Homo sapiens: one gene and its partners. The protein of the gene in region 1 purifies or fractionates together with the protein of each later gene. This does not show direct contact. Each region holds a gene or a part of one and is shown in the gene's direction. Other genes may lie near its edges. The genes, in order: KMT2C, KANSL3, BOD1L1, ASXL2 and ASXL1.

Region 1 (6,055 bases):
GAAAATGCTTGTTAGTACCTGTACAACAAGCAACTTTATTTTTAAAGTGATTTTCTAACTCCTTATGTCTTAATAGAGAGTGTGACATTTTTATAAGCAAGTTAATAGAACCAAAACGTTGAAGATTGAAAATCAGCTGTTTTAGGGGGGAAGGAGTAATTCATTTCACTTTAAAATTGTTTTATCTCTTCAGCAGAGGTACAGTTGGCCGTCTGTATCCATGAGTTCTATATCTGTGGATTCAACCAACCATGGATCAAAAATATTTTGGAAAAACATCTATACTGAACTTGTACAGACTCTTTCCCTTGTCATTGTTTTTAAAACAATGTAACAACGATTTACATAGCATTTATATTGTGTTAAGTATTACAAGTAATCTAAAGATGACTTAAAGTATACAGGAGGGGCCAGGCACAGTGACCCACACCTGTAATCCCAGCAGTTTGAGAGGCCAAGGTGGGCAGATGGCTTTGAGCCCAGGAGTTCAAGACCAGCCTGGGCAACATAGCCAAAACCTCATCTCTATAAAAAATGAAAAAATTAGCTGGGTATGATGGCGCATGCCTGTAGTCTCAGCTACTTGAGAGACTTGAGAGGTTGAGGCTTCAGTGAGCCAGAATTGTACGACTGCATTCCAGCCTAGGTGACAGAGCAAGACCACCCTGCTAGGTCAAAAAATAAAAAGGGAGAAAGTATACAGGAGGATATGTGTAGGTTATATGCAAATACTGTGACATTTTCTATAAGGGACTTGAGCATCTGTGGATTTTGGTATCTGCAGGGAATCCTGGAACCAATACCCCATGGATACAGAGGGACAACTGTACTAAATTTGGAGACTGGATTGGCATGCCTCAGTGTCTTCCACAGTCACCTCTTTTCTTGTTAGGTTTCATAGAGAATCTTTGTGCATCTTGAAAGAGAAATATTTAGACATGTTTAAAGAGTTTTTGACACATGATCTTTGCCATGAACTATTAGGTAATTTTATAAGATTCGCAGTTCATATGGTAAATTATTTTCTCCCAAAGAGCCAAATTAAGATTGTCAGCTGGAACCAAATCCTTGCTTTCGTTTTAAAGCATATTAAATCTGTATTATTGTTGGAAAATATATATAGTTATTTTCCAGCTTGTTCCCCAGTGCACATATTTTCAGTTACAGTGATTATTTTGGATAGAGCATATATGTGTGTATATGCTCTATCACATATATATATATAGATGTGTTAATATGCTGTGTTTTATTTTGACTTGAATTAGGTAATGACAGAATTTTTAAATTTTTAAGTGATTTCTTTAATGATACGTTTCAAATATCCAGATTTTTTTTTTTTTAAGACTGATTGGATATTTTTCCTTTTTTCTAAATTTTTTTTTTTTTTTTTTTGAGATGGAGCTTCACAGTTGTTGCCCAGGCTGGAGTGCAATGGTGCGATCTCGGCTCACTGCAACCTCTGCCTTCCAGATTCAAGCGATTCTCCTGCCCCAGCCTCCCAAGTAGCTGGGATTACAGGCATGTGCCACCATGCCTGGCTGATTTTTCTTTTTCTTTTTCTTTTTTTTGAGACAGAGTTTTGCTCTTGTTGCCCAGGCTGGAGTGCAATGGCGCAATCTTGGCTCACCACAACCTCCGCCTCCTGAGTTCAAGTGATTCTCCTGCCTCAGCCTCCCGAGTAGCTGGGATTACAGGCATGTGCCACCACATCTGGCTAATTTTGTATTTTTAGTAGAGATGGGGTGTCTCCATGTTGGTCAGGCTGGTGTCGAACTCCCGACCTCAGGTGATCCACCCGCCTCAGCCTCCCAAAGTACTGGGATTACAGGTGTGAGCCACTGCGCCTGGCCTAATTTTGTATTTTTAGTAGAGGTGGGGTTTCACCATGTTGGTCAGGCTGATCTCAAACACCTGACGTCAGGTGATCCACCCGCCTTGGCCTCCCGAAGTGCTGGGATTACGAGCATGAGCCACCATGCCTGGCCCCAGCCCCTTCTTTCTAAATTGAAGGAGACATAATTTCTAAGGATATGTTAAGAAAACTAGGAGCTAAAATATTAAATCACACCTAGGATCTTTAAGCTTAATTCAAATACATAGAAATATATCCTCAACTGATAGGTACTATGCACTGTAAAGAGAGAAGATGAGTTAGTGTCCAGATCCTTTTTTGGGAGGTGCCGTAAGTATTTCAGCTATTTTACCTGACTTTTTTTTCTTTTATTTGAGAAAGTTCATGATAGTTTTATTTTATTCCTTAAAACATTTAACATAATCTGGGAAATTTTTTTCTCTTCTTTTGTCAAAGCAAAAAGCCAGAGATAACAGAGCTGCTTTACGCATTAATAAAGTACAGATGTCAAATGATTCCATGAAAAGGCAGCAACAGCAAGATAGCATTGATCCCAGCTCTCGTATTGATTCGGAGCTTTTTAAAGATCCTTTAAAGCAAAGAGAATCAGAACATGAACAGGAATGGAAATTTAGACAGGTATGGAATTTTTGGATAATCTACTTTTTGAAGTTGCATTTTTGTTTTGAGAAGGGAGGTCTTTGCATTATTATTTTAGAATATAGTTCTTAGACCATGAAAATTTGATTTAGGATAGACTTGTTTCTCTTTTCAGTAAAATATATTTAAATTGATTTGAGAAATTTATTGAAATATTATAAACAATATACTGCCCTAGGCACAAATGGAACATACCATGATGAGTAATTTCTCTTCTTCAGGAATTCATAATCTAATATGGGAGCAATCTGGTAGCGCTGACATCAAACAAATTAACTTTCTGTTGCTTTTTCCCCCCATGATGGTAGTTTTCTTCCTTAACCTAAATATGATTGCTTTTTCTTTTCTATTTTAATAGCAAATGCGTCAGAAAAGTAAGCAGCAAGCTAAAATTGAAGCCACACAGAAACTTGAACAGGTGAAAAATGAGCAGCAGCAGCAGCAACAACAGCAATTTGGTTCTCAGCATCTTCTGGTGCAGTCTGGTTCAGATACACCAAGTAGTGGGATACAGAGTCCCTTGACACCTCAGCCTGGCAATGGAAATATGTCTCCTGCACAGTCATTCCATAAAGAACTGTTTACAAAACAGCCACCCAGTACCCCTACGTCTACATCTTCAGATGATGTGTTTGTAAAGCCACAAGCTCCACCTCCTCCTCCAGCCCCATCCCGGATTCCCATCCAGGATAGTCTTTCTCAGGCTCAGACTTCTCAGCCACCCTCACCGCAAGTGTTTTCACCTGGGTCCTCTAACTCACGACCACCATCTCCAATGGATCCATATGCAAAAATGGTTGGTACCCCTCGACCACCTCCTGTGGGCCATAGTTTTTCCAGAAGAAATTCTGCTGCACCAGTGGAAAACTGTACACCTTTATCATCGGTATCTAGGCCCCTTCAAATGAATGAGACAACAGCAAATAGGCCATCCCCTGTCAGAGATTTATGTTCTTCTTCCACGACAAATAATGACCCCTATGCAAAACCTCCAGACACACCTAGGCCTGTGATGACAGATCAATTTCCCAAATCCTTGGGCCTATCCCGGTCTCCTGTAGTTTCAGAACAAACTGCAAAAGGCCCTATAGCAGCTGGAACCAGTGATCACTTTACTAAACCATCTCCTAGGGCAGATGTGTTTCAAAGACAAAGGATACCTGACTCATATGCACGACCCTTGTTGACACCTGCACCTCTTGATAGTGGTCCTGGACCTTTTAAGACTCCAATGCAACCTCCTCCATCCTCTCAGGATCCTTATGGATCAGTGTCACAGGCATCAAGGCGATTGTCTGTTGACCCTTATGAAAGGCCTGCTTTGACACCAAGACCTATAGATAATTTTTCTCATAATCAGTCAAATGATCCATATAGTCAGCCTCCCCTTACCCCACATCCAGCAGTGAATGAATCTTTTGCCCATCCTTCAAGGGCTTTTTCCCAGCCTGGAACCATATCAAGGCCAACATCTCAGGACCCATACTCCCAACCCCCAGGAACTCCACGACCTGTTGTAGATTCTTATTCCCAATCTTCAGGAACAGCTAGGTCCAATACAGACCCTTACTCTCAACCTCCTGGAACTCCCCGGCCTACTACTGTTGACCCATATAGTCAGCAGCCCCAAACCCCAAGACCATCTACACAAACTGACTTGTTTGTTACACCTGTAACAAATCAGAGGCATTCTGATCCATATGCTCATCCTCCTGGAACACCAAGACCTGGAATTTCTGTCCCTTACTCTCAGCCACCAGCAACACCAAGGCCAAGGATTTCAGAGGGTTTTACTAGGTCCTCAATGACAAGACCAGTCCTCATGCCAAATCAGGATCCTTTCCTGCAAGCAGCACAAAACCGAGGACCAGCTTTACCTGGCCCGTTGGTAAGGCCACCTGATACATGTTCCCAGACACCTAGGCCCCCTGGACCTGGTCTTTCAGACACATTTAGCCGTGTTTCCCCATCTGCTGCCCGTGATCCCTATGATCAGTCTCCAATGACTCCAAGATCTCAGTCTGACTCTTTTGGAACAAGTCAAACTGCCCATGATGTTGCTGATCAGCCAAGGCCTGGATCAGAGGGGAGCTTCTGTGCATCTTCAAACTCTCCAATGCACTCCCAAGGCCAGCAGTTCTCTGGTGTCTCCCAACTTCCTGGACCTGTGCCAACTTCAGGAGTAACTGATACACAGAATACTGTAAATATGGCCCAAGCAGATACAGAGAAATTGAGACAGGTAAACACATTGTATGTTCTCAGTTTTAAATGTATTATTTGAGGAAGCTGTTCATTTCATCAAACTGAGTAATTTCTACACAGGAGTTAATGTTTTATTTTTTTTATTCTGTAGAGTTTGTCATACTGCAAAAAAGAAAAATGAAATTGATGAAATTAACACCAGTTTAATTTATTCTGTATCTGATTTCAGTTTTCACGAATTCGCAGGGGAATCCTTAAATATTAAAGCTTTGTTTTGTGATAGTTGTCTGGCAAGGAAAAGGACCCAAATCATCAAATTATTTTTCCTAATATATTGAATAGTTAAATGTAACTGGTATTTCATCAAACTTTGAAACATTACCATAGCCACATAATGAAAGTATCAGGATTTAAAAAGCCACTAACCTGTCAGGCACGGTGGCGCATGCTTGTAATCCCAGCTACTTGAGAGGCTGAGACAGGAGGATCACTTGAGTCCAGGAATTTGAGGCCAGCCTGGGCAACATAGCAAGATCCCATATCTAAAAATAAAAAGCCAGTAACCTTTAAAAAGCCATTAATTACCACAAATCCCAGTGATTTTTGTTTCTTCCCATTTAGCGGCAGAAGTTACGTGAAATCATTCTCCAGCAGCAACAGCAGAAGAAGATTGCAGGTCGACAGGAGAAGGGGTCACAGGACTCACCCGCAGTGCCTCATCCAGGGCCTCTTCAACACTGGCAACCAGAGAATGTTAACCAGGCTTTCACCAGACCCCCACCTCCCTATCCTGGGAACATTAGGTCTCCTGTTGCCCCTCCTTTAGGACCTAGATATGCTGTTTTCCCAAAAGATCAGCGTGGACCCTATCCTCCTGATGTTGCTAGTATGGGGATGAGACCTCATGGATTTAGGTAATGCTTTTAATTTCCTGCCGAATTTAAATTGCTATTAGAAGAGGGAAACAGAGCTGGGTGTGGTGGCTTGTGCCTGTAATCCTAGCTACTAGCTGAGGCAGGAGGATTGCTTGAGGCTAGGAGTTTGAGACCAGCCTGGGCAATATAGTGAGACCACCCCCCCCCCCCCCCAACCTCTTCAACAAATTTAAAAATTTTTTAAAAGAAATAGACAAATGAAGTTAGTATTAATCAGGAAGCTGTTACTGCTTTCTACTTCTTTCTCCCCTTTGAAATATATATAATCTGCTATTTAGTGCTAATGAGAGGTCATAGACATTTTTTTCCTCTAAGAACTCTACAGACTCTGAAAACATTACCTTTGTTTTTAAGTATTAACTGTGTTAGCATTACCTTGCACCCTTAATGATGCAGTTTATCA
Region 2 (6,055 bases), on another chromosome or scaffold:
CAGGGGTGTGATCTCGGCTCCCTGCAACCTCCACCTCCCCGGTTCAAGCAATTCTCCTGCCTCAGCCTCCCAAGTAACTGGGATTACAGGCGCCCGCCACCATGCCCGGCTACAACAGGGTTTCACTGTGTTGACCAGGCTGGCCTCGTACTCCTGACCTCAAGTGATCTACTTGTCTCGGCCTCTGAAAGTGCTGGGATTACAGGTGTGAGCCACCGCTCCTGGCCCTTTCTTTGTTTTTAAGGACATGGAGACAGAGATATCTCACTATGTTGCCCAAGCTGGCCTTGAACTCCAAGGTTTAAGTGGTCCTCCCGCCTCGGCCCCCAAGTATAATACTCTTTCTTTGACATTGGCTTTCTAGCACTGTGCCTTCCCATATCTTAGCATTTATTGCTGTCTTTTTAGGGCACAGCTAGGTTTTTATAGGTCTCACCCAGGAAGTCATGATTAGTTTCTCTTAGCTGATCTAATTTCCCCTGTGACCTTTTCAAGTCAAATATTTCTAATCTTAAAATGGTAATCTGAGGAGCCACTCAAAGATTAGAAGTTAAGCCAAAAAACAGTTTGAGTCTAGTACTGAGTGTGCTTTCCTTCAGTATCCGCTATACAGCCAAGGCCTTCCTGTGTCTCCCTGTCCTTTCCACCATGTCAACCTGCTTGTGAACTGGAGGTGCAGTGATAGTTCCTGAGCCATTCTAAAAGCTCTTCTGTCTCTTCCTCTTTAGGGAAAATACTGCACAGAGGTCAACACCTGACATTCGTTGGGATCATAGCTACCTTTTTTTGCAGAGGGATGGAAATGTTTTAATTTTATCTTATTTCTTATTTTTTCAATTATAAAAATGATTATGCTTATTTTAAATAATTCAAACATTATAGAAATAATTAATTTAGAAAGGGAAAGTTTCCCATGATGCTACTCCTAGAGATGATGTTCACTGTTAATAGCCTGATATGGATCCATTCAAATTTTTTTTTCTACACAAAGTATGTTATTTTATTTATTTTGTACAAATATGGGATTACAGAGTATGGACTGTTTTGTAACTTGCCTTTTTTTATAAATCATGTCGTGACACGTTTCCCTGTCTGTGTCTTTTCAGAGGCTGGCTAGTATTTCACTGAGTAGATGTATGAAGATGTATTTCACCACCTTCTGTTAGGTAGATAGCTGGGTTCTATTTTGGTTTTTGATATTTTAAATAATGCTCTGGTGAACACTTGTTTATTCTTGTGTACCTCTGGGAGCATTTCTCCAGGCCAGAGAATAAGTAGAGGATGTGTACCTCTAATATCTGGGCAGCTGCTCACTAACTGCCCTTCAAAAAGTTTTTGCTACTTTACAATTCTAGCCACGGTGATGAAAATATGTTTCATATTTTGTGGAAATCAAAATTTTAACTTTATTAATCTGGGTGAAAAATGAAATTGTTTTAATGTGCATTTTCCTGATTACTTAAGAAGTTTTATGTCTTTTATGAAATGTTTGTCATACTCTTTGAATTATAGTGGCTTTGTATATTCAGATGTTAAATCTTTATCTGTTACACAAATTACATATATGTTATTCCTGTCAGTGGCTCATATTTTTTTTTCTTTCTATTGAAGCATTCATTGAATGTCAGTCAGTCTTTTAACTTTTATTTCTAGATCATACAGCCATTTAAATGTTTCATATAGTAAAATCTTCAAATATTTTCCTTTATAGCTCCAAAGTTTTATGCCTTAAGAAAGCTAGCCCTATCACAAGAATATAAAAGTAATCCTTTTTGTTTTTAAAATTTGAATTGTGGTAAAACATATATAACATACAATGTACCATTTTAGCCATGTTTCAAGCTTACAGTTCAGTAGCATTGAGCACATTCACATTGTGGTACAGCCATCACCACCATCCATCTCCAGAACTTTTCTGTCATCCCATATTGAAACTCTCTCTTTGTGTTTTCTTATAATGCTTTTGCTTGTTTCCTTTAATTCCTTATAGTTCACTTTTGTATGTTAAGTGAGGTAAGGATGAGTCCATTCATCATTCCTCCACTCATCTAAAATCCACTGCTGTCACATTCTAAAGTACTGAACACATATGGGCCTGTTCTGTAGTTTTGAATTTGTCTATCCTACGCTGGCCTTCTGTTATGGGTTGATAGTATGGATCTTGAAGTTAAGGGAGTGTCAATTCTGTTTCTAGTTTGCTAAGATAATCTTCATTCTTTTCCTTTCTCATGATAGTTTTGAATTTTTTCCATTATTCTTTTAGAATCACATGAAATGAATGAGGATAAACATTTCCTTTTTTTTTTTTTTTTTTTTTTTTTTTGAGACAGTCTCACTCTTGTCACCCAGGCTGGAGTGCAGTGGCACGATCTCAGCTCACTGCAACCTCTGCCTGCCAAGTTCAAGCTATTCTCTTGCCTCAGCCTCCTGAGTAGCTGGGACTATAGGCTCATGCCACCACCCTCAGCTAATTTTTCTATTTTTAGTAGAGACAGGGTTTCACCATGTTGTCCAGGCTTGTCTTGAACTCCTGACCTCAAGTGATCCACCCACCTTGGCCTCCCAAAGTGTTGGGATTACAGGCGTGAGCCATCATGTCCGGCCAACGTTTCCTTCTAATCAGTTAAAATGATGAGTTACTTTAATAGGTTTCCTAATATCAAACTGTGTGAATTCTAGATGCAGTGGCTTTTTCAGTGTGTCCTATTCTTTTTATTATACATACAAAGGCAACAAGACCCTATCAAAAGAACGAAATGAAAAAAGAAAGAAGCTAAGCATTTCAAAAGAAAAGCATGTCTATTCTATTTGCTTTTATTTTACTTAGGATTTTGGCGTCTATATTAATCTCCTCAGGCTTTGGCCCATAGTTTTCTTCCCCTCCACCCCCTACTTCTGTGTGTGTGCTTTCCTTTGTCTAGTTATGTAAAAGGGGTAATTCAATCCTTGTAGAATGAGATGGGAAGTGCTTTTCCCCTCTCATACTCTAAAACAGTTTTATAGTACAGAAATGATAGTTCCTTGATGGGTTGATAGAAGTGACCTACAAAGCCATTTGGGCCTGTTTTTAGGGTGTCTTCGTTTGCTGATGCCATGTTGATGGACAACTAGAACACAGATCCTGCCACGTGATCCCTTCCTCCTGTGTTAGGTAATCCGTCTCAGCTTGCCATGGCCTGGGCCAGCCAGTTACCATTGAGAAGAGAGTAGAGGTCATTGAGAATCCCCCTTTTCTGGAGCTCAGTTGAAGCACAGAATAAAGATCAAGGTCTGGCCTTCTAACTGATGATGTTAACATGAGATTAGTTTTCATCTTAATAGAATGGACGTAGGCTGGGCATGGTGGTTCACGCCTGTAATCCCAGCACTTTGAGAGACCTAGGCGGGTGGATCACGAGGTCAAGAGATCGAAACCATCTTGACCAAAATGGTGAAACCCCATCTCTACTAAAAATACAAAAATTAGCTGGATGTGGTGGCGTGCACCTGTAATCCCAGCTACTTGGGAGGCTGAGGCAGGAGTATTGCTTGAACCTGGGAGGCGGAGGTTGCAGTGAGCTGAGATTGTACCATTGCACTCCAGCCTGGGCAACAGAGCCAGACTCTGTCTCAAAAAAATAAAATAAATAAATAAAATAAAGTGGATATGTAATTGCTAGGAGGAGTCAGGTGGTGATTCTTTTCCAACAAGCAAGGGGATGTTATTAGATTAAGGCTTCTTGCTGATTCAGAAGCTTCTAATAGCTCTGTTCAGATTGCCAGACAGAGCACTGGACTATGGGTCAGGTCATCTGTTTTCAGCCAGCTGTGTGATCCTGGGCAAATCACCTATCCTTCTGGGCTTTGGTTTTCTTACCTGGTTTAGAGAGGAAGTTGACTTAATTCAGTGACTGTTGTGGTGGCAGGATCAGAATCTCCTCAGGCTTTGGAAACCGACGTTTTTTAATGCTTAGAAACAAACTACCCATTTTTTTGACATTTATGAGGCAATTGGAAATTTTAACACTGACTGGATAGTTGTTGATATTACGGAATTGTTAACCTTTTTAATGTGTGATAATGGTATTGTTAGGATTTTAAAACAGTCATTTTTTATTTTGGGGTTCCATACTGCAATATTTTTGGATGGAATGAATTTAAAAAGAAAAGTGAACACCAACTAGACTTCTCTAAGATCTGTATAAGCACTTAATTATCTGTTTTGTTTCTGGCACTGATTGGTGTTTACTATGTGTTTCCTTCATGGGAATGGACTATTGTGTACTCATCACAGCTGAGAAGCTGCAGGGAGGAAGAGGACAGACAGAGACTATGTTGTGCCCTGCATCAGGGTCCAAAAAATGGACTCCCTGCCTGTGGTTATAAGTTCTCTCTCCTCTCTGTCCTGCTGGCCATACCAGGACCTTGTCAGCCTGGCAAGCAGCACCTCTAGCTGGAGGCCTCTGGCAGTGGGCCTCACTGTAGCCTTGTAGCAGGCTGTGGGCAAGCTGGCTCACTCTAAGGTGTATTCATAATCAGAACAGAGTGATCATCTGTGTACAGCCCTGCCTTTGGGCAGGGAAGCCCATGAGGTTTTGTTTTTGTTTTTGATTGAGATGGGGTCTTGCTATATTGCCCAGGTTGGTCTGGAACTCTGGGCTCCAGCAGTCTTCCCACCTCAGCCTCCCAAAGTGCTGGGATTGAAGTCATGAGGTTTGATTGTCAAACTCCTCTTCATTGGTGTGATTATGGCTCACTGCAGCCTCAACCTCTTGGGCTCAAACAATCCTGTGGCCTCGGCCTCCCGAGTAGCTGGGCCTATAAGGCATGCAGCACTATGCTCACCTAATGTTTGAAAAAATTTTGTAGAGATGGGCTAAGTTGCCCAGGCTGGTCTTAAACTTCTGGGCTCAAGCAGTCCTCCTGCCTGGCCTCCCAAAGTGTTGGGATTATAGGCATGAGCCACCTCGCCTGGCCTTCCCTCCTTTACTACATTCTCAGAGACCTCTTAGGAGTTTCCCAAGGGGGAAATTTAGAAAAGTGGGGAAAGCGTTGGTAAAAAAGGCCACCCTCTCTACTTGCTTCCTTATTCTTAAGCTGCAGGGCTCAACATTGATGGCATCCCCCCACACCTACATGTCTAAGGCCTCAAAATCAGAAGTCACGGAAATCTTCCCTTCTGTTCTGTTGCCCTTAAAAACTCACCTATTTCCTTTTTTCTGCATTCCTTTTCTGTCTTCATGTGTAATAATATGAGGTGACCTTTGTTGTTGAGCACAGATTAAACTCAGGAGCTTTATGTGGATTATTTCATTTAATCCTTACGGTGACCCTGGAAAGTAGATGCTGTCATCTACCTCTTACAGGCGAGGAAAAGGAGGCTCAGAGAACATAGGCACTTGCCTTAAAAAGTGGAAAGTTGAGTCTCTCACTCTAGAGTCCATGTTCTGTTAACCACTTGGCAGCTAGAACATGTGTCCTTGTGTATCCAACTTCTTTCCTATTGAGAATTAATTCTTTAAAATAAATTCTCAGGAGTTGGGATAATTGGGATAGAGGGTCTGAATATGATGATAACCTGTCAAAGCTTTGACCCTTCTTCACTACCTCTCCTGCCACAGCGCCTGCCTCCAGCACCCTGAAGATGCTGTGTGATATGTCCTCCTTACCAAGTTGGTGATGGCTGCCTCATGGTGGGCCCTGGACAGGTGTGTGGTCCTGCTGAGCTGTCCACGTGTCGGAAGACCTGTTTAAGACAGTCATTTTTGCCTCTCCGCCAACTGTCTTCAGAGAAACCATTAGGTTAGGTGATACGGTGCCAGCAAGGGAAGCACCATCGTCCAGGATCTGCAAATCTGGTTCCTGGGAACCCCAGACTCCTCAGCAGATCTGGCTGTACATGGATCAGAACCACTTCTTCCCCCGCTTAAGCTGTGGTTTGACCCAAGGGTCAGCATATAGGACTGCCTGCTGCATTTAATGAAGGTGTTTCCTTTTGGAAGTCTGTGCTACCCTCTGCGCCTAGTTGGGAGGAGACATCCATCTGGTCTGGGATTTCGGGAGTTAGAATGGAAAG
Region 3 (6,055 bases), on another chromosome or scaffold:
GGGATTGTAGAAAGCAGTGTGACCAGTGCAGTCTCAGGAAAGGATGAAGTGACACCAGTTCCAGGAGGTTGTGAGGGTCCTATGACTAGTGCTGCATCTGATCAAAGTGACAGTCAGCTCGAAAAAGTTGAAGATACCACTATTTCCACTGGCCTGGTCGGGGGTAGTTACGATGTTCTTGTATCTGGTGAAGTCCCAGAATGTGAAGTTGCTCACACATCACCAAGTGAAAAAGAAGATGAGGACATCATCACCTCTGTAGAAAATGAAGAGTGTGATGGTCTCATGGCAACTACAGCCAGTGGTGATATTACCAACCAGAATAGCTTAGCAGGGGGTAAAAATCAAGGCAAAGTTTTGATTATTTCCACCAGTACCACAAATGATTACACCCCTCAGGTAAGCGCAATTACAGATGTGGAAGGAGGTCTCTCAGATGCTCTGAGAACTGAAGAAAATATGGAAGGTACCAGAGTAACCACAGAAGAATTTGAGGCCCCCATGCCCAGTGCAGTCTCAGGAGATGACAGCCAACTCACTGCCAGCAGAAGTGAAGAGAAAGATGAGTGTGCCATGATTTCCACAAGCATAGGGGAAGAATTCGAATTGCCTATCTCCAGTGCAACAACCATCAAGTGTGCTGAAAGTCTTCAGCCGGTTGCTGCAGCAGTGGAAGAAAGGGCTACAGGTCCAGTCTTGATAAGCACCGCCGACTTTGAGGGGCCTATGCCCAGTGCGCCCCCAGAAGCTGAAAGTCCTCTTGCCTCAACCAGCAAGGAGGAGAAGGATGAATGTGCTCTCATTTCCACTAGCATAGCAGAAGAATGTGAGGCTTCTGTTTCCGGTGTAGTTGTTGAAAGTGAAAATGAGCGAGCTGGCACAGTCATGGAAGAAAAAGACGGGAGTGGCATCATCTCTACGAGCTCGGTGGAAGACTGTGAGGGCCCAGTGTCCAGTGCTGTCCCTCAAGAGGAAGGCGACCCCTCAGTCACACCAGCGGAAGAGATGGGTGACACCGCCATGATTTCCACAAGCACCTCTGAAGGGTGTGAAGCAGTCATGATTGGTGCTGTCCTCCAGGATGAAGATCGGCTCACCATCACAAGAGTAGAAGACTTGAGCGATGCTGCCATCATCTCCACCAGCACAGCAGAATGTATGCCAATTTCCGCCAGCATTGACAGACATGAAGAGAATCAGCTGACTGCAGACAACCCAGAAGGGAACGGTGACCTGTCAGCCACAGAAGTGAGCAAGCACAAGGTCCCCATGCCCAGCCTAATTGCTGAGAATAACTGTCGGTGTCCTGGGCCAGTCAGGGGAGGCAAAGAACCGGGTCCCGTGTTGGCAGTGAGCACCGAGGAGGGGCACAACGGGCCATCAGTCCACAAGCCCTCTGCAGGGCAAGGCCATCCAAGTGCTGTTTGTGCGGAAAAAGAAGAGAAGCATGGCAAGGAGTGCCCCGAAATAGGACCATTTGCAGGAAGAGGACAGAAAGAGAGCACTTTACACCTCATAAATGCAGAAGAGAAGAATGTATTGTTGAACTCCCTTCAGAAAGAAGATAAGAGCCCAGAGACAGGGACAGCAGGGGGCAGTAGCACAGCAAGTTATTCAGCAGGAAGGGGCTTAGAGGGGAATGCTAACTCACCTGCCCACCTGAGAGGACCAGAACAGACGTCTGGGCAGACGGCTAAGGATCCCTCTGTCAGCATTCGCTATTTGGCAGCAGTAAACACCGGTGCTATAAAAGCTGATGACATGCCACCTGTTCAAGGGACCGTGGCTGAGCATTCCTTTCTTCCTGCTGAGCAGCAGGGGTCTGAAGACAACTTGAAAACCAGTACCACCAAATGTATTACTGGCCAAGAATCAAAAATTGCTCCTTCCCACACAATGATCCCTCCAGCTACTTACAGTGTAGCTCTGTTGGCTCCTAAATGTGAGCAGGACTTGACTATAAAGAATGATTATAGTGGCAAATGGACTGATCAAGCATCTGCTGAGAAAACAGGAGATGATAACAGCACAAGGAAATCATTCCCTGAGGAAGGAGACATAATGGTTACTGTGTCTTCTGAAGAAAATGTGTGTGACATAGGTGAGAATCTGTACCTAATTGCAAATTTTAATATTTACAAGGATGATTGTACAACAGAGTGCATTTAGGACAGTCTTCCAAAAGATGGTTTTGGTTCCAGAAAGATAAAATATCTATAAATTTTTTTCTCATATCATAATGTTGCAAAATAACTCTCATCAAACTTGAAGGTCAAACTTCTCTAAAAGCTACTTGTGTTTAAAAGTTTAAAGCCTTTGGCCCATTTCTCATGTGTGGGGAGAGAAAAAGCAGGAGGCTGAGGCATGGGAAGTCCACATGTTATTTACATGACTGCTGCAACTTACTAAACCTTTTTGACCTACAGGTTTTTTGTCAATCAAAAAGAAGAATACCCTACCACAACCCAATGAAAGCAATACATTTTTTTTTTACCACCCTCATTTTACAAACGAGGAAATAGGGTCAGAAAATTTAAATAGCATTCATGGTCCTCGGGTGACTTTTAGAGGAAAAATCAGTTTCTGAGCCTCCATTTCTTGTTGTATAAAATGGGGATAATAAGACGGGATGATAATACAAAGGCAAACACGATTCCAACCCTCATCTGATCATAGGTTTGCAGTATTTGTTTGTTCAGTCTGTTAGTTCCTTTGAATCAAAGGAGCATGTTATTTTTAACTGAGCTTATTTTTCAGGTGAAATGAGTTTCTAGTTTAGAATATATTTGAAAGTGAAAAGAAACATTTTTCCCTGCTGACAGATTTTGGACAGTGCTGGTCTTTTAGAAATAGTTAATAACTTTCAAAGATATTATCTCAGTCATGCCTTATACCGTCCAACTTCAGATACTTTATACCAGTCCAGATTGGAGAAAAGTGGACAGTGACACTTTAAAGCATGACAATTGCATAGACTGGGATTAAGCACAGGATGCTGTAGGAACAAAAGGGTCCTCATGGGCTGGACTTGAAGGGACAGAGGAATTCTTTTCCACTCTGGCTATATAAATTGTAGCATCCTGGACTTTTAACTGAAATAGACCTTAGCCATCATCTAACCCAGTCTCAGGAAGCTGAGGCTAATAGATTTAGTCTTGTTCATTATAGAGACTTAGGAGACTTTAAGAAATGCTCCAAGGGTTGAAACAAGTAACTTTACAAGTTTCTGTTGAATTTAGCCTGGAGTAAATTGAATGCTCCAGAAGTTTTTATGACTCAATCATTGCTACAATTACTCATTCCTCCTTTTTTCCTGAAGAAGTGAAAATAGAAGGGTTTCCACAGAAGCTTCTACACAATCTAAAGAAGGATATAAGAGGCAAGACCAGAGTAGAACTGAATCTCTGCACCTGAGAAAATTTTTTCTTTTTGTCTACCTCACAGTTTAACTTTGTGTTCAATTTTTCTGTGTTCAGTGTGAAGCAAGTAAAGTGAATCTGTTAATAAATCACCTTTACTGAGAATAGACCTTAGTGACTCAGAATATTTTTAAGGACAAACTTGATGGAGATCACTGCAGAAAAATACTTGGAAATGAAGATGTCTCCACAGATAATACTTTTGTCATTCTTTCTGGGCAGTTATCTTACTGTGCAAATAAGAATTTCACTCACCCAAAATGAGCAAATAATCCCTGCCTTTCATCCAGATTCTTTTATACAACATATTCCTTTTGATCATTTTCTACTGACAGCAAAATAAACCAGAAAAGGAAGGTGCAACAGCATGTCAGATAACCACATTCCATTACTTTTTGACCCCAGATGTATTTTGCAAGCAAATTCTTAAACTGTACTAAATGGCTTGAATTTTATTAGGCAATGAAGAGTCTCCATTGAATGTTTTGGGAGGATTGAAACTGAAAGCCAACTTGAAAATGGAGGTATGGCTTATAATTCAGCTGTGCTGAACTGTAAGTGATTAAATACTGTTTCATCACATATACACATATATATACTTATGTGGTATATAGGTCCTGTTCTCATTGTACTTATGATATTTAGTGTTGTTATTGCCATATCCTGTGGGGGGAAAGCTAAGAACCTCAGTAATCTTAGTAAATAGTGCTATCATCAGTTCATTTACTCAAGCCAGAAACACAAGAGTCACCCTCAGTTTCTCCGTCATCCCACATTTAATCTATCGCCATTTCTTACAGGTTCCATTTCCAAAATATAACATGAGTCCATCTATTTCTGTTTCTACAGTCATCACCCTAGGCTAAGCCACTACTTCAGTAGCCTCTCCATTAGGCTTAGTTCACTCCAGCCCTCCTCCAGTGTGATTCACACAGTCCTGCAGGTAGTCATTAGAAACATAACTTAGGCCCTGTCATTGCTCTGCTTAAAATTTGTGGTGGCTTCCCATCATGCTTAGAATAAAATCTGCTTTTTTTTTTTTAAGCATGGCTTTGGTGCTTTACACAATTTAGTCTCCATATCCTCTTTCTAGCCTGATCTGAAGGCACCATCCAAGTATATGTGACAAAACAGCAGTGAACATGGGGGTTATGAACACTACAGAGGAAACACAACTTGCCCAATAGTAGCAATAGGCAGGTAGACAGGAGGGCTTGCAAGGAGGACACTGGAATAGAATTTTGAAAGTAGAGTGGAAATTTCCCAGAAAAGAAAGAAAAGAGCCTTCCAAGCAAAGAGAATGTTGTGTTCTAGACTCAGAGACAGGAGGGCACGTGGTGTGTCTCAGGCGCTGCAGTGGTTCACGGTGAGCTGTGATGAGACTTGAGCCTGGAAGGGAGTGGGAGCCCATCAGGAAGAGTCTTGTGTGGTGTGCTGAGTTGGGGTTTTTACCTTTAAAGCAATAGAATACCCATTGATGGATGAAATACGAGATTAAATTGATTTTTTACTTGGCTTTGTTTTTAAAGGTTGATGTATTTATTTTTAAGTTTTGTGTACTCTTGAAAATAGGCTTTTATATTGTTTCAGGATGCTGGGTTTTTTTTTGTTTAATTCACTTGAGGTTAGTCTTCTTGTAAAAACCCTGGTTAACTTATTTTTATGGTGCTTTGGATTTTTTAGGCTTATGTGCCTTCAGAGGAAGAGAAAAATGGTGAAATTCTGGCACCACCAGAAAGTCTGTGTGGGGGAAAGCCAAGTGGAATAGGTGAGCTCTTTAGAATGGTTGTTCACATTGTTTTTGTTTTTGCCTTGCATGTGGTTTTACCTTTCTAAAAATCAATAGCTGATGCATAGTAACATACAGGCTCTATTAACTTGCCTCTCACTTTTTAAAATAGATTAGGGAGAATTCTTTACTATTTTATTTTTAACATACACTTTTCCTCATGAAATGTCAATCAACATTATGTAGGGTAATTGTTTAAATCTGATTACCCCCAAATAATAATGCAAAACGAAAGTTGTTTTGGAGCAAACTCTTGCTCTATCCCAGAAATGTTTCTCCATACCCCTGCCTGTCCCCAGATGCTATTGCAGCTTACTTCCAAAAGGCTAGTCTGAGGATAAGGGCCCACTTTACACCATTTGCTCTTGTCTCTTGCTCAGGCTTTTCCCCAGTGGCTGCACAGATACTGCTCTCAGCTTGTATAACCTCATCTCAGTCTCTCTGTGCAACATTCTTCACTGTGGACTACAGATTTTAAGGGAGATCCTCAATATCAGAAAGGATAAAGGCAGGAGCTCTTAAACGTTTTGGTCTCAAGGACCAAAAATTACTGAAAAATTACCGAAGACCCCAAAGAGATTTTGTTATATGGCTTATACCTGTTGACATTTGCCAAATAAGAAATTAAAATTGAGAAAAGTAAATATTAAGTCACTATTAATTCAATATAATTAACTCACTATAAGTTAACAACTCTTTTTTCATGAAAAATGGCTAGATTTTCCAAAAAACCCAATTAAGTGATAAAAGTGACATTGTTTTGCATTTTTGCAAATCCCTTTAAGTCTGGCTTAATAAAAAACAGCTATTTCTCGTATCTGTTTTCACATTCAGTCCTGTTGCTGTT
Region 4 (6,055 bases), on another chromosome or scaffold:
TCCTGCCGTTGGCCTCTCAAAGCACTAATATTACACAAGTTTCTAGAATCTTAGGAGTGTTTTTTGAATTATGATCCCTTTGATAAAATAGTCATTGGGAGATTGCGACAAATAGGAAAAATTAGTCTGCATCTACTTAGCTTTTCCTATGTTAGTATATTTGCTCATTTCATGCCCTAGCTAGCTATGTGAAAAATAGTATTTAAAAGATGGAAAGACTACTTTGATCAGTAGAGTTCCTGAGGGTACCAGTATATTAGTAGCTTGGTATTTTTCTTTGATTCTGGCAAATACATGAAGCCCCAGTCTCAGTGAAAATGTGTTTTAGAAAGAGAATGATGACACTAAAGTTTTTCTAGTAGCCAAAATCTAGAAAACACTCTTAATTTTGGGGGGTTATTTTATTACCTATAAGTGAGGGGATTAAACTAAATCTCGGTGTTCAAAATATTTCTGTTTTTGGGATAAATAGATGAAAATAAAAGAAGGACCGGGCAAAGGTACATTTGTAATATTTCAGACTGTAGAATAATGAAATCAGAAAATTAGTGAGTTGACAAATGAAAGTAACTTTGACCTAAATAAGAATGTTAGTATTTAGATCCAGAGGAATAGGAAAAGAAGTTTTAAGGCTTAAACTTATTTCTTAGGCATTAGGATGTCAAGTGTTCGAGGAACAGTTTCATCAAGGAAGCAGGTGTCTGTTTCTTATTTCATGTGTTTTTGATACCTCCATTGTAGAGCTATCATGTTTTAGAGAGTACTATTAAAATAAGGTTGTTTTCCTGACCAATAATATACCAATAGATATATTCAACACATTAAATGTAGATATGTGATACTGGGATGATACGGGGTGTGTGTGTTTATGTGGGAGAGCTACATGGTTTGATGTAAGGTTATTATAAGCAAAATAATAAGATTCATAATTATTATCATTATTATTATAATTGTATTTATTTATTTAGAATCGTTTTGCTATGCTCTCCAGGCTGGAGTGCAGTGGCTTCACAGGTATGATCGTGGTGCACTAAAGCCTTGAACTTCTGGTCTCAAGTGATCATCCTGTCCTAGCTTCCCAAGTAGCTGGGACTATAGGCATGTGCCACTGTGCTTGGCTTCATAATTATTATATAATAGTAGATTATGCCAAAAGGCTGATAAAATGAACTTAAATATATACACTGGCTCCAGTAACTAAGGACACCAGAGAAAGGTGATGGAGCTGCGATTCACCTGATCTTGAATGTGCATTCACTACACTGGACTGCCTCCCTGTTGATCTTATTTAAATATGCTAGTTATAAAAAGCATTCTAGTATTTAGTTAACAGTTTCACATGTTTTACTTTTTCTTTTTTTGAGACAGGATCTTGCTCTGTCGCCCAAGCTGGAGTGCACTGCCACGATGGCGGCTCATGGCAACTCAGCCAACCCCTCAAGTGATCCTCCTGCCTCAGCCTCCTGAGTAGCTGGGAGTGCAGGTGTGCGCCACCATTCCCAGCTAATTAAAAAATTTTTTTTTGTAGAGAGAGGGTCTCCCTATGTTGCTCAGGCTGGTCTCAAACTCCTGGGCTCAAGTGATCCTCCTGCCTCAGCCTGCCAAAGTGCTGATATTATAGGCGTGGTCCACTATACTCAGCTGCATGTTTTAAATTTTAAGGGCAGTAGTGATGGTGGTAATGAATGATTTGAGCGAGAGACAAATAGTGTAGTGTTTAGTACAATTTAAATTTGAAAACTTGTAGCTAACCGGGGATATTGAGAGCCATTACATTGACTTTATTTTTTGAACCAGGGTCTCACTTTGTCACCAAGGCTAAAGTGCAGTCTTGTGATCGTGGCTCACTGCAACTTCCATCTCCTGGGCTCAAGGGCTCCTCCCTCCTTAGCCTGTGGAGTAGCTAGTACCACACACATGTGCCACCATGCCCAGCTAATTTTTTTGTGTGTGAGACGGGGTCTCACTTGGTTGCCCAGGCTGGAATGCAGTGGCGTGATCTTGGCTCACTGCAACTTCTGCCTGCCAGGCTCAAGCAATCCTCCCAGCTCAGCTTCCCAAGTAGCTGGGACTACAGGCATGCGCTGCCATACCTGGCTGATTTTTTAATTTTTTGTAGAGATGGGGTTTCGCCATGTTGCCCAGGCTGGTCTGAAACACCTGGACTCAAGCGATCTGCCCACCTCTGCCTCCCAGTGTGATGGGATTACAGGCATGAGCCACTGTGCGGGGCCCACAGCTAATCTTTAAACTTTTTTTTATAGAGACGGGGTCTCGCCAAGTTTCCCAGGCTGGTCTTGAACTCCTGGACTCAAGTGATCTGCCTGCCTCAGCCTCTCAAAGTGTTAGGATTACGGATGTGGGCCACTGCACCCTGCCTGCATTGACTTTAGAACTATGTTCAAAATTAGGCTCATTAAAAAGATGAATCATCTAAATATTTGATGACATCCTGAGGATTTTAGCAGTTTTTGCAAAGCAGAACTTTGAAAATAGCAGTCTTATTGATCTTGTTTGCCTTTTGACTTTTCTTTCCTTACCCATGGCTAGAAAAGCATTAAAAGGTGAAAGAGTCCCAAAAGGACAAGTGTGTGTGATTGTAGGTGGAAGGGATAGAGAGGCAGACTTTAGAGATTATACACTTAAGGGACATTGGGTGTTTTTTTGGGAGGAAAATGGTAAAAAAAAAAATATGAGAAACAAGGTGTGGGTGTTAGAGATGAGGAACATAACCTGTAGTGTAGATCTTTGGAATATAATTTGTAGACTGAAGAAGTAGTTTTTTTGTTTTTTTTTTTAATATATAGACTTTATTCATTGGTTAATTATTTTGAATGTACACAAGATTTTAGTTTTTGTCACTTAAAACTTTTGTCACTTTTGTCACTGCTAAAATCCTCAGGATGTCATCACATATTAATCATCTTTATTTAACTTTAGAAAATAAGGTGGAAGATAGAAAATTTCTATTAAAGATAGGCTAATTACTTTGATATAGGAAGTGTAGAAAATGGAAATATTATTATTTTTTGAGACAGAGTCTCACTCTGTCGTCAGTCTGGAGAGCAGTGGTGCAATCTCGGCTCACTGCAACCTCTGCCTCCTGGGTTCAAGTGATTCTTCCGCCTCAGCCTTCATAGTAGTTGAGATTACTGCACCTGGCCAATTTTTATAATACAAATTATAGAAAGTAAAACGGTAGATTTTTGGCTCATGGATTACATAAAAATTAGTGAGAAAGCATTGGCATGGGCTAAAACTTGAGAAACACTGACAGCTAAGCTATGAGGATGCAAAGGAATAAGAACAATGGAATGGACTTTGGGGACTCTGGGTGGGGAAAGGGTGGGAGGGTGATGAGAGATAAAAGACTACACATTGGGTACAGTGTACACCGCTCGGGTGATGGGTGCACCAAAATCTCAGAAATCACCACTAAAGAACTTATCCATGTAACCAAACACCACCTTTTCCCCAAAAACTATTGGGGAAAAAAACAAAAAAAGAACTTACAACCTCCCAAGAGCCAATAAATAGAGACTTCTGGGAAAAAAAAAATTCTCCTGAGAAACCGTCTGGGCTAAGTGCTTTTTGGTGAGCTAATTCCTTGATAGTTTTGTCTATTTATTCTGTGGAACTTAGTTTGCTTAAGCGTCCTCTCTCTACTAGGGTCAATTTTAGTAAACTGTTTTCATTAACAGTTATCCATATAATAGAGATTCTCAAATTTATTTGCCTAAAGCTATGGAAAATAATCTCATAGAATTTAAAATTTTTCCTCTCTATAGTTATTTCTCCCTTATCAATGCTTACTTTGTATATTTGTATTACTATCTTCTTTATTAATTTTGCTAGTGATTTATCTGTTTTGTTGGGTGCTTTTGTTTTCCCCTAAGTAAACAGATTTTGTTTATGAATTGTTTTTCTGTTCTCTGACCTTATTAGTTTTCACTTATACCTTTACAATTTTACTCTTAGACTTTGTTTTGGTTTCTTTTGTTATCTTTCTAGCTATTTGAGTTGGGAATTTATTTAAGTTTTAATTTTTTTTTTCTCCTTGAGACAGGGTCTTGCTGTGTTGCCCAGACTGGAGTGCGGTGGTGCGATCTTAGCTCACTGCAGCTTCTGCCTCCCAGGCTCAAGGGATCCTCTTGCCTCAGCCTCCCAAGTAGCTGGGACCACAAGCACGCACTACCACGCCTGGCTAATTTTTGTATTTTTTGTAGAGATGGGGTTTTGCCATGCTGCCCAGCCTGGTCTCAAATTCTTGGGCTCTCGCAATGGACCCAAAGTGTTGGGATTACAGGCGTGAGCCACTGTGCCCTGCTAATTTTTAATTTATGTAGCTCTTTGGGCTTGTGAATTTTCCTCTGATCTCTGCTTTACATTTATCCCATAGATCTGTTATGCAAAATTTTCACTCATTGTTTTTCTGAAATTCTATAATTTATTTCTCCTTTTCACCCAAGAGTTTAATAAAAAGTTCTTTAATTTTTAAAAAAATTGAGGAACTGCTCTGATGCATAATTTTCAAAACAACTGTGTATTTACATTCGTCAAATTACTTTCTGCAAGTCTGTTAGTACAAGGTGACTTGATGTAACACTTTTTGCTTGACTGATCTTTCCTTCTTGCCATATTATTTAAAGTTCTCCTGCATAAATTTTGTGTTAATTTCAAATTAGCCAGGTGTGGGTGGCGCATGCCTGTAATCTCAGCTACTCAGGAGGCTGAGGCAGGAGAATCACTTGAACCCGGGAGGCGGAGGTTGCGGTGAGCCGAGATCGTGCCATTGCACTCCAGCCTGGGCAACAAGAGTGAAACTCTGTCTCAAAAACCAAAATAAATAAAATTTTGTGTTAATTTCATAATTTTTTCTGACCTGTTTTTATTCCTCTATCCTGAAAGCCCACAAGCCTCCTAGTTTGTTGAAGGAGGGGAAAAAAGCAGATTTTTTTTTGAACACTTAAATTAAAAATTTCTATGAAAGGTGCTGCTGCTGCTGCTACTCCTGCATCTCTTGTAGAATTCTGAAAGGCGTTGAGAAAATAACCTCAGGTTTGCAAAAGTCCTTTCTGCTTCCCCATCCACAGATTCTATCTACTCTTGAGAGGCTGGACAATTTTGCTGTGGGACATTTTTCCCCCCCTCTACGAAAGCTGTCTGGAAGGAGGCCAGTGTGGAAGATATAACTAAACTTGCTATCTTTGTCCTGTTTACAAAAGAACTCTGAATACCCCTCTATTTCTGTATTCTTTCTTTTTACATCTCATAGAGGCCATCCTCATAGTTGATATTTTTAAATTTAGTATTTTTAGTACAGTGTGATTTGTTATGTTTTTACTATTGTTAAAAGGTTATTGAATGAGCTAAATTTTAGAACTCTAAATATGATTTAAAAACTGTTACTTGCTTTAAATTTATTTCCTATTCAAGTTATATAGGCTCATTATGTTTTAAAAAAACAAGAAACAAGTAGAAGTATGTAAAGAGTTAATCCTAGATGAGTCAGTATACTGAAAACAGGAATTAAGTGAAAGTCTGCATACTGAAATATTGAAAATATTTACTTACCATACCGAAATTAACTCTGGTTGATAGTTAAATATGGCTTTCTGGATTTTTTTTTACCTCGTATATACAAACAGGTATACCTTTATTTTACATGAAATTCTATAACTTTATTTTATGAATATCATGGATAGCTTGTCGTGTCATTACTTGTGTATTTAATATCTGCCTTATTCTTTTCTTCTTTTTCTTTTTTGAGGTGGGGTCTTGCTCTGTCACTCAGGCTGGAGTGCAGTGGCATTCAATCACGGCTTACTGAAGCCTTGACCTCCTGGGCTCAAACAATCCTCCTGCCTCAGCTTCCTGAGTAGCCAGGACAACAGGGATGTGCCACCAGGCCAGGTTAATTTTTTGTTTTTAAACGGAGCCTGGCGACAGACTGCAGTGGCGCAATCTTGGCTCACTGCAACCTCCGCCTCCTGGGTTCAAGTGATTCTCCTGCCTCAGTCCTCCCGAGTAGCTGGGACTACAGGCACGCACCACC
Region 5 (6,055 bases), on another chromosome or scaffold:
CCTTCCAAAGTGCTGGGATTACAGGTGTGAGCCACCGCGCCCGGCCGAGAGGGGTGGTTTCAAATGGGGGTTGATTAGGAAGGGGCACAAGGAAACTTTTGGGGGTGTTGGAAATGTTCTATATCTTGATATGCATTTGTTAGAACTCATTAAATGGTACACCTAAGATCTGTGCATATCACTGTGTTTAAATTAAACTTTAATTTAAAAAAATAGGGGAAGGATAGGAGGAGGTATACATTGATCCAAGGGCATTCTCCTACGTAAGCACAATACAGTTATCACACTCAGAAAATTTAACATTAATGCAGCATTACCATCTAGTATGCAGTTCACATTCAAATATCCCAGTGTCTTGAAATTTGCTGAGAGTAGATCTTAATTGTCTTCACACTCCCCATCTCACACTCTCCCTCTCATGGTAACTGTGTGGTGAAGGATTGGTTAATTTTTTTTTTTTTTTTTTTTTTTAAAGACAGAGTCTTGCACTGTCTCCCAGGCTGGAGTGCAATGGCATGATCTTGGCTCACTGCAACCTTTGCCTTCCAGGTTCAAGTGATTCTTGTGCCTCAGCCTCCCGAGTAGCTGGGATTACAAGCGTGCACCACCATGCCCGGCTAATTTTTGTATTTTTAGTAGAGACGGGGTTTCACCATGTTGGCCAGGCTGGTCTCGAACTCCTGACCTTGTGATCCACCCGCCTTGGCCTCCCAAAGTGCTGGGATTGCAGGCATGAGCCACCGTGCCCGGCCTATAGAATTTTTTATATGTAGGATTTAGTGAAAGATCACCCATTATTAATTTTTTTAAAAGCTTCATGATGAAAATTATTCTTGTAAAATGTTAAAATCTTGAATCCTAGGGCATGTTTTCTGGCACCTGTTATTTTCAGTAACCCATTTCGTTTTTGTCAGACATATAGGGTTAATGTATGAAAAGTCAATTATGTCAAACTTATAGAGTTTATATGGAAAGATTAATGATCTTTTACAAATGCAGAATTGGCTGGATGTGGCTAATTGTAGAATTGGCCTGTAACCTAGCACTTAGGGAGGCTGAGGTGGGAGGATCGCTTGAGTCCAGGAGTTTGATTTTTTTTTTTAATTTTTTATTTTTTGAGACAGTCTCACTCTGTCGCCCTGGCTGAAGTGCAATGGCATGATCTCAGCTCACTGCAACCTCCACCTCCCAGGTTCAAGCGATTCTTGTGCCTCAGCTTCCCAAGTAGCTGGGATTACAGGTGTGTGCCACCATGCCTAGCTAATTTTTTGTGTGTGTGTGTATATTTAGTAGGGGGGGTTTCATCATGTTGGCCCAGGCTGGTCTCGAACTCCCAGCTTCAGGTGGTCCCCCCATCTCGGCCTCCCAAAGTGCTGGATTACAGGTGTGGGCCACAATACCCAGCATTTTTTATTTATTTATTTATTTATGTATTTGAGATGGAGTTTCACCCTGTTGCCCAGGCTGGAGTGCAATGGCATGATCTTGGCTCACTGCAGCCTGCATGTCCCGGGTTCAAGCGATCCTCCTGCCACAACCTCCCGAGTAGCTGGGAATACAGGCATGTACACCACACCCAACTAATTTTTGTATTTAAGTAGAGTCAGGGTTTCATTATGTTGGTCAGGCTGGTCTCGAACTCTGGACCTCAAGTGATCTGCCTGGCTTGGCCTCCCAAAATGCTGGAATTACAGGCTTGAGCCACTGCACCTGGCCAAGCCCAGGACTTTGAGACCAGCCTGGGCAACAGACCAAGACCCTGTCTGTACAATAAAAATTATGCAGTATTAGAATAGCAAATCTTACTCTTAAAAGTTTTGTTTTCCTTGTCTTTTTACTGAAAATGCATGGCTTTAGAAACTTCTGGGTAGTTTGAATTGCAGACAACCAGGCCCTATTCCTGTTTGTTTAACTAATGAGATTTGTAAACAGTACTTGGTTTCCCCAGACTCTAGGACCTAGAGGAAGGAAATTTTGATTTAGCTCTTGGTAAAGCATTTAACACCTAATTTTTCTTTTTCATTGTTATTTTCTTGATCACAGAAAACAATACATGTTAATAGTAGAAAATACCCACAATTGAAAAGAATATAAAGCACTTACTAAAACTCTACCACCTAGGCTAGGTACGGTGGCTCACACCTGTAATCCCAGTACTTTGGGAGGCTGAGGTGGGTGGATCACCTGAGGTCAGGATTTCAAGACCATCCTGGCCAACATGGTGAAACCCCATATCTACTAAAACTACAAAAATTAGCTGGGCGTGGTGGCAGCCACCTGTAATCCCAGCTGCTCGGGAGGCTGAGGCAGGAAAATCGCTTGAACCCAGGAGGAGGAGGTTGCAGTGAGCCGAGATCATGCCGCTGCACTCCATCCTGGGTGACAGAGCGAGACTCTTGTCTCAAAAAACAAACAAAAAAACTGCCACCTAGAGATGGTGGTGGCCAACAGCTTAGTAAGAATTTCTCTTGCATTTTTCTATGCAAACACATTCAAATTTTCATTTTTTAAAAAAGATGATAGAATCATACTGTATGAATTTAATTGCCTAATTAAGCTTGTGTATCATCGTTTCTCTTGTCATTAAATGCTGTACAGCTTTCTTTTAAATGGCTATCTGTGGTAGTGTTCCTTGAAGGAAATACCTTAAAATTTTTTGTTTTTAAACTTTTATAATTGTGGGAATGTAATACAGTGAATGCATAGGACACAAATGTTCAGCTTAAGGAATTATTATAAAGTGAACACCCTGTAACTGCCACTTAGATCACGACATCAAATATGGCCAGCAGCCAGGCGCACCTCCCCTACCCCCCACTGCCCCTTCCCAGTCACAGCCCCATTCTTCCAGCTGAAGGTAACTTCTGTCTTGACTTTATGAAAGTTATTTTCTTGCTTTCCTTTAGATTACCTACCCGTCTTTGCATTCCTAATGCTGTAGTTTAGTTGAGCTTATTTTGAACTTTTCACAAACGGAATCATCAACTATGCATTATTTTGTATCTGGCTTTCATTCACTATTTTGTTTTTAATATTCATCTATGTCGTTAGTAGCTATAGTTCATTCATTTTTTGTTGCTGTATAATCATCCATTTATTGAATGTACTACAATTTGATTCTGCCTTTGGCAGCCACTTTGATTGTTTATAATCCAGATTTCAAATGCTGCATCATGAACATGTGGGTTGTGATTTGTGTAGATGTGCATGTACTTCTCTAAGGAATCCAAGCCTAGGAGGGACGTTGCTGGGTCAGAGGATGTTTGTATCTTCAACTGTACCAGATAAGGCCAAATTGTATTCTCAAATGCTTGGATCTGTTTTCAGTGTACTTGTTCTACTCCTAATTAACACTACTTGATATTGTCAAACTTTAATTGTAGCCATTCTGATGGATGTGGTAGTATCTCATTGCGGTTTTAATTTGCATTATTTTGCATTTTCCTTATTGTTAGTGAGATTAAATACCCTTTTATATGTTTTGGCTACTTCAGTATCCTCTTGTGCAGTGCCTAATTCACATCTTTTATTTTTCTTCTGAGTTGCCTTTTGCCCATTGATTTATATTTGTTCCCCCTCTCTCCCCGCCCCCAAGAAGGAGTCTGGCTCTGTCACCCAGGCTGGAGTACAGTGGCACAATCTTGGCTCACTAACCTCTGCCTCCTTCGTTCAAGTGATTCTCCTGCCTCAGCCTCCCAAGTAGCTGGGACTGCAGGTGTGCGCCACCACGCCCAGCTAATTTTTGTATTTTTAGTAGAGACAGGGTTTCACCATGTTGACCAGGCTTGTCTTGAACCCCTGACCTCAAGTGATCCATCCGCCTTGGCCTCCCAAAGTACTGGGATTACAGGTGCAAGCCACCATGCCCGGCCTGATTTATAAATGTAGTCTAAATACAAGTTCTTTATTGGTTATGTAAGTTGCAGATATCTTTTTCAGCTCTGTAGGTAATAATGTTTTTTGATGAATAGGAGGTCTTAATTTTAATGTAGTTTAATTGATTTGTTTTCTCCTTTGTAAGAATCAATATTTTTCATGTCCTGTGTAAATCTCGTATTGGGATAAAAGATACATATATATTTTTTAGGTTTTGGCTAATAGTTTTCCGTTGGCAGCATGTGAACCTTTTTATGCCATTTTTACTTTCATCAAGGGTGTATGTATGATTTTCTCATACTCTTGTCAGAACTGGAGATTTGGGGTAACTTTGCCAGTGTAATAGACTTTCTTAATTCATTAAGGAGTATTTTATCTTAGTTTGCCCATGAGAGAAGAGAGATTAAATTTGTTTTATTATACCAAGAACATGGCAGTCAATAAGCATAACTAAAAATATTATTTAGCTTTTGATTCTGAAGACCATGTATGGCCAGTAAGGAAAAGAGGTAAAGATGTAGAAAACTGTTTTCTTTTTTTTCTTTCTTTTTTTTTTTTTTTTTTTTTTTTGAGATGGAGTCTTGCTCTGTCGCCAGGCTGGAGTGCAGTGGCGTAATCTCAGCTCACTGCATCCTCCACCTCCTGGGTTCAAGTGATTCCCCTGCCTTAGCCTCCCGAGTAGCTGGTACTACAGGCGCGTGCCACCACACCTGGCTAATTTTTTGTATTTTAGTAGAAACAGGGTTTCACCGTGTTGGCCAGGATGGTCTCAATCTCCTGACCTCGTGATCCACCTGCCTCAGCCTCCCAAAGTGCTGGGATTACAGGTGTGAGTGAGCCACTGCACCTGGCCTCTTTTTTATTAATTTAAGATACATGATTTTGGCTAAAACTAATGAAAATAAATTGATGAAACTTCAATGTAGTGGATCAAGAGACTCATGAAATTGATGAGTTAGATTGTTGTGGGCACCTGTTTTAAATTTATGGTGCCTTTTTAGCAGAATCATGACTTTATCAACTCTTTTTCACATACTTTTATTCAAAGAAGACATTCTCCTCCTCTGCCCCAACTTATCTTCTTCTTGTCTCCAACTGCCAGTATTCTCATCCACACTCTTTGTAGTTTTGAGGTGTGAGATAACTCCCAAGTTCTTCTTGGGAATGGGTAGAGTTTAATTCTGAGTCTACATGTCGTGAGTCTATTGGAAGAAGCTTTTCTTAGGAGGTGAAATTTGGGATGGAGTTCTCCTCTACACTCTAGCCCTGTAGCCACAATCTTTGGTTTAGATCTTTGGCATTTTTTGTTGGACATCTTTCATAGTGTCTACCTCTTCTTCCTGCCTCTAGGCTTCCCGCGGTTGCCAGATGAAATTCCGAAAACTCAAATCATTCCTGTAGTTAATATTCTTCAGTGACTCCGGAACAATCAAATTCTTGATCCCTCCACATGGGTCTTACCATCTGCCCTCGTGCCCTCTCTAGCTTCCTGCATATTGAGTTCCCCACAGCCCTAGTTTCCCTGAGTTTGGAATATTCTTTCACATTTGCTCATCCCACTATCTAGAAACTTCCTACAATCTCTCTACTGCCAACCTGTCTGTCTAGTTGCTAATTTATTTTAAAACCCAGCTTAAGCAACACATCCTTTTGGATGTGTTACTTCCCTGATCGTTATTCACCTCCATGCCGTCTTTCGCTCAACTCATTGAAGTTAGGTGCCCCTCTTCTGGGCTGCCACGGCTCTCCATGTTCACCTATGTACTGTACTTTGTATTGTAATCAGTTTAATTGACCCCCCTACTTATTTGAGCTCCTTGAGAGCAGGGCCTTGATTCCTGCTCCTTAGCACTCCACCCTCCCCAGAACTAACATGGTATAGCTTATAGGAGGCACCCTATAAATGTTTAATGAATGTTTGAATGCAAAAGTGTATCTAACTTTCTTAATGATATATTTATGAAAAGAACTTGCTGAGAAAAAGGTCAGTTAGAAAGGGTTAGGAACTTGTCAGTATTCTAAATCCCTCTTTTTCAAAAGCATACACATTTAGGAATGACTGCCTTGCTTTAAGAATTTGTAGGGTTTTGTTCACCTGAGTTGTACCTTGCTGTCACAGAAGGATGCCCTGCAGTGGTCTCGCCATCCAGCTACAGTGGAGGGAGAGGAGCCAGAGGAC

What was found.
Region 2: the proteins of KMT2C (region 1) and KANSL3 purify together in Homo sapiens (affinity purification with mass spectrometry, with the first as the bait; one large-scale study listed by BioGRID). This does not show direct contact.
Region 3: the proteins of KMT2C (region 1) and BOD1L1 purify together in Homo sapiens (affinity purification with mass spectrometry, with the first as the bait; one large-scale study listed by BioGRID). This does not show direct contact.
Region 4: the proteins of KMT2C (region 1) and ASXL2 purify together in Homo sapiens (affinity purification with western blotting; one study listed by BioGRID). This does not show direct contact.
Region 5: the proteins of KMT2C (region 1) and ASXL1 purify together in Homo sapiens (affinity purification with mass spectrometry, with the first as the bait; one large-scale study listed by BioGRID). This does not show direct contact.

Annotation. Positions count from the first base shown.
Region 1 is NC_000007.14:152,179,410-152,185,464, reverse strand, and holds part of KMT2C (histone-lysine N-methyltransferase 2C), read left to right. Parts: intron 1-2,308; coding exon 2,309-2,491; intron 2,492-2,870; coding exon 2,871-4,754; intron 4,755-5,338; coding exon 5,339-5,631; intron 5,632-6,055. UniProt on the Homo sapiens protein: Histone methyltransferase that catalyzes methyl group transfer from S-adenosyl-L-methionine to the epsilon-amino group of 'Lys-4' of histone H3 (H3K4).
Region 2 is NC_000002.12:96,595,177-96,601,231, reverse strand, and holds part of KANSL3 (KAT8 regulatory NSL complex subunit 3), read left to right. Parts: intron 1-728; coding exon of another isoform or gene 729-758; exon of another isoform or gene 759-1,106; coding exon of another isoform or gene 1,107-1,166; exon of another isoform or gene 1,167-1,579; intron 1,580-3,071; exon of another isoform or gene 3,072-3,151; intron 3,152-5,600; coding exon 5,601-5,621; 3' UTR 5,622-6,055. UniProt on the Homo sapiens protein: Non-catalytic component of the NSL histone acetyltransferase complex, a multiprotein complex that mediates histone H4 acetylation at 'Lys-5'- and 'Lys-8' (H4K5ac and H4K8ac) at transcription start sites and promotes transcription initiation.
Region 3 is NC_000004.12:13,594,992-13,601,046, reverse strand, and holds part of BOD1L1 (biorientation of chromosomes in cell division protein 1-like 1), read left to right. Parts: coding exon 1-2,101; intron 2,102-3,878; coding exon 3,879-3,943; intron 3,944-5,102; coding exon 5,103-5,187; intron 5,188-6,055. UniProt on the Homo sapiens protein: Component of the fork protection machinery required to protect stalled/damaged replication forks from uncontrolled DNA2-dependent resection.
Region 4 is NC_000002.12:25,870,386-25,876,440, reverse strand, and holds part of ASXL2 (putative Polycomb group protein ASXL2), read left to right. Parts: intron 1-6,055.
Region 5 is NC_000020.11:32,422,133-32,428,187, forward strand, and holds part of ASXL1 (polycomb group protein ASXL1), read left to right. Parts: intron 1-5,995; coding exon 5,996-6,055.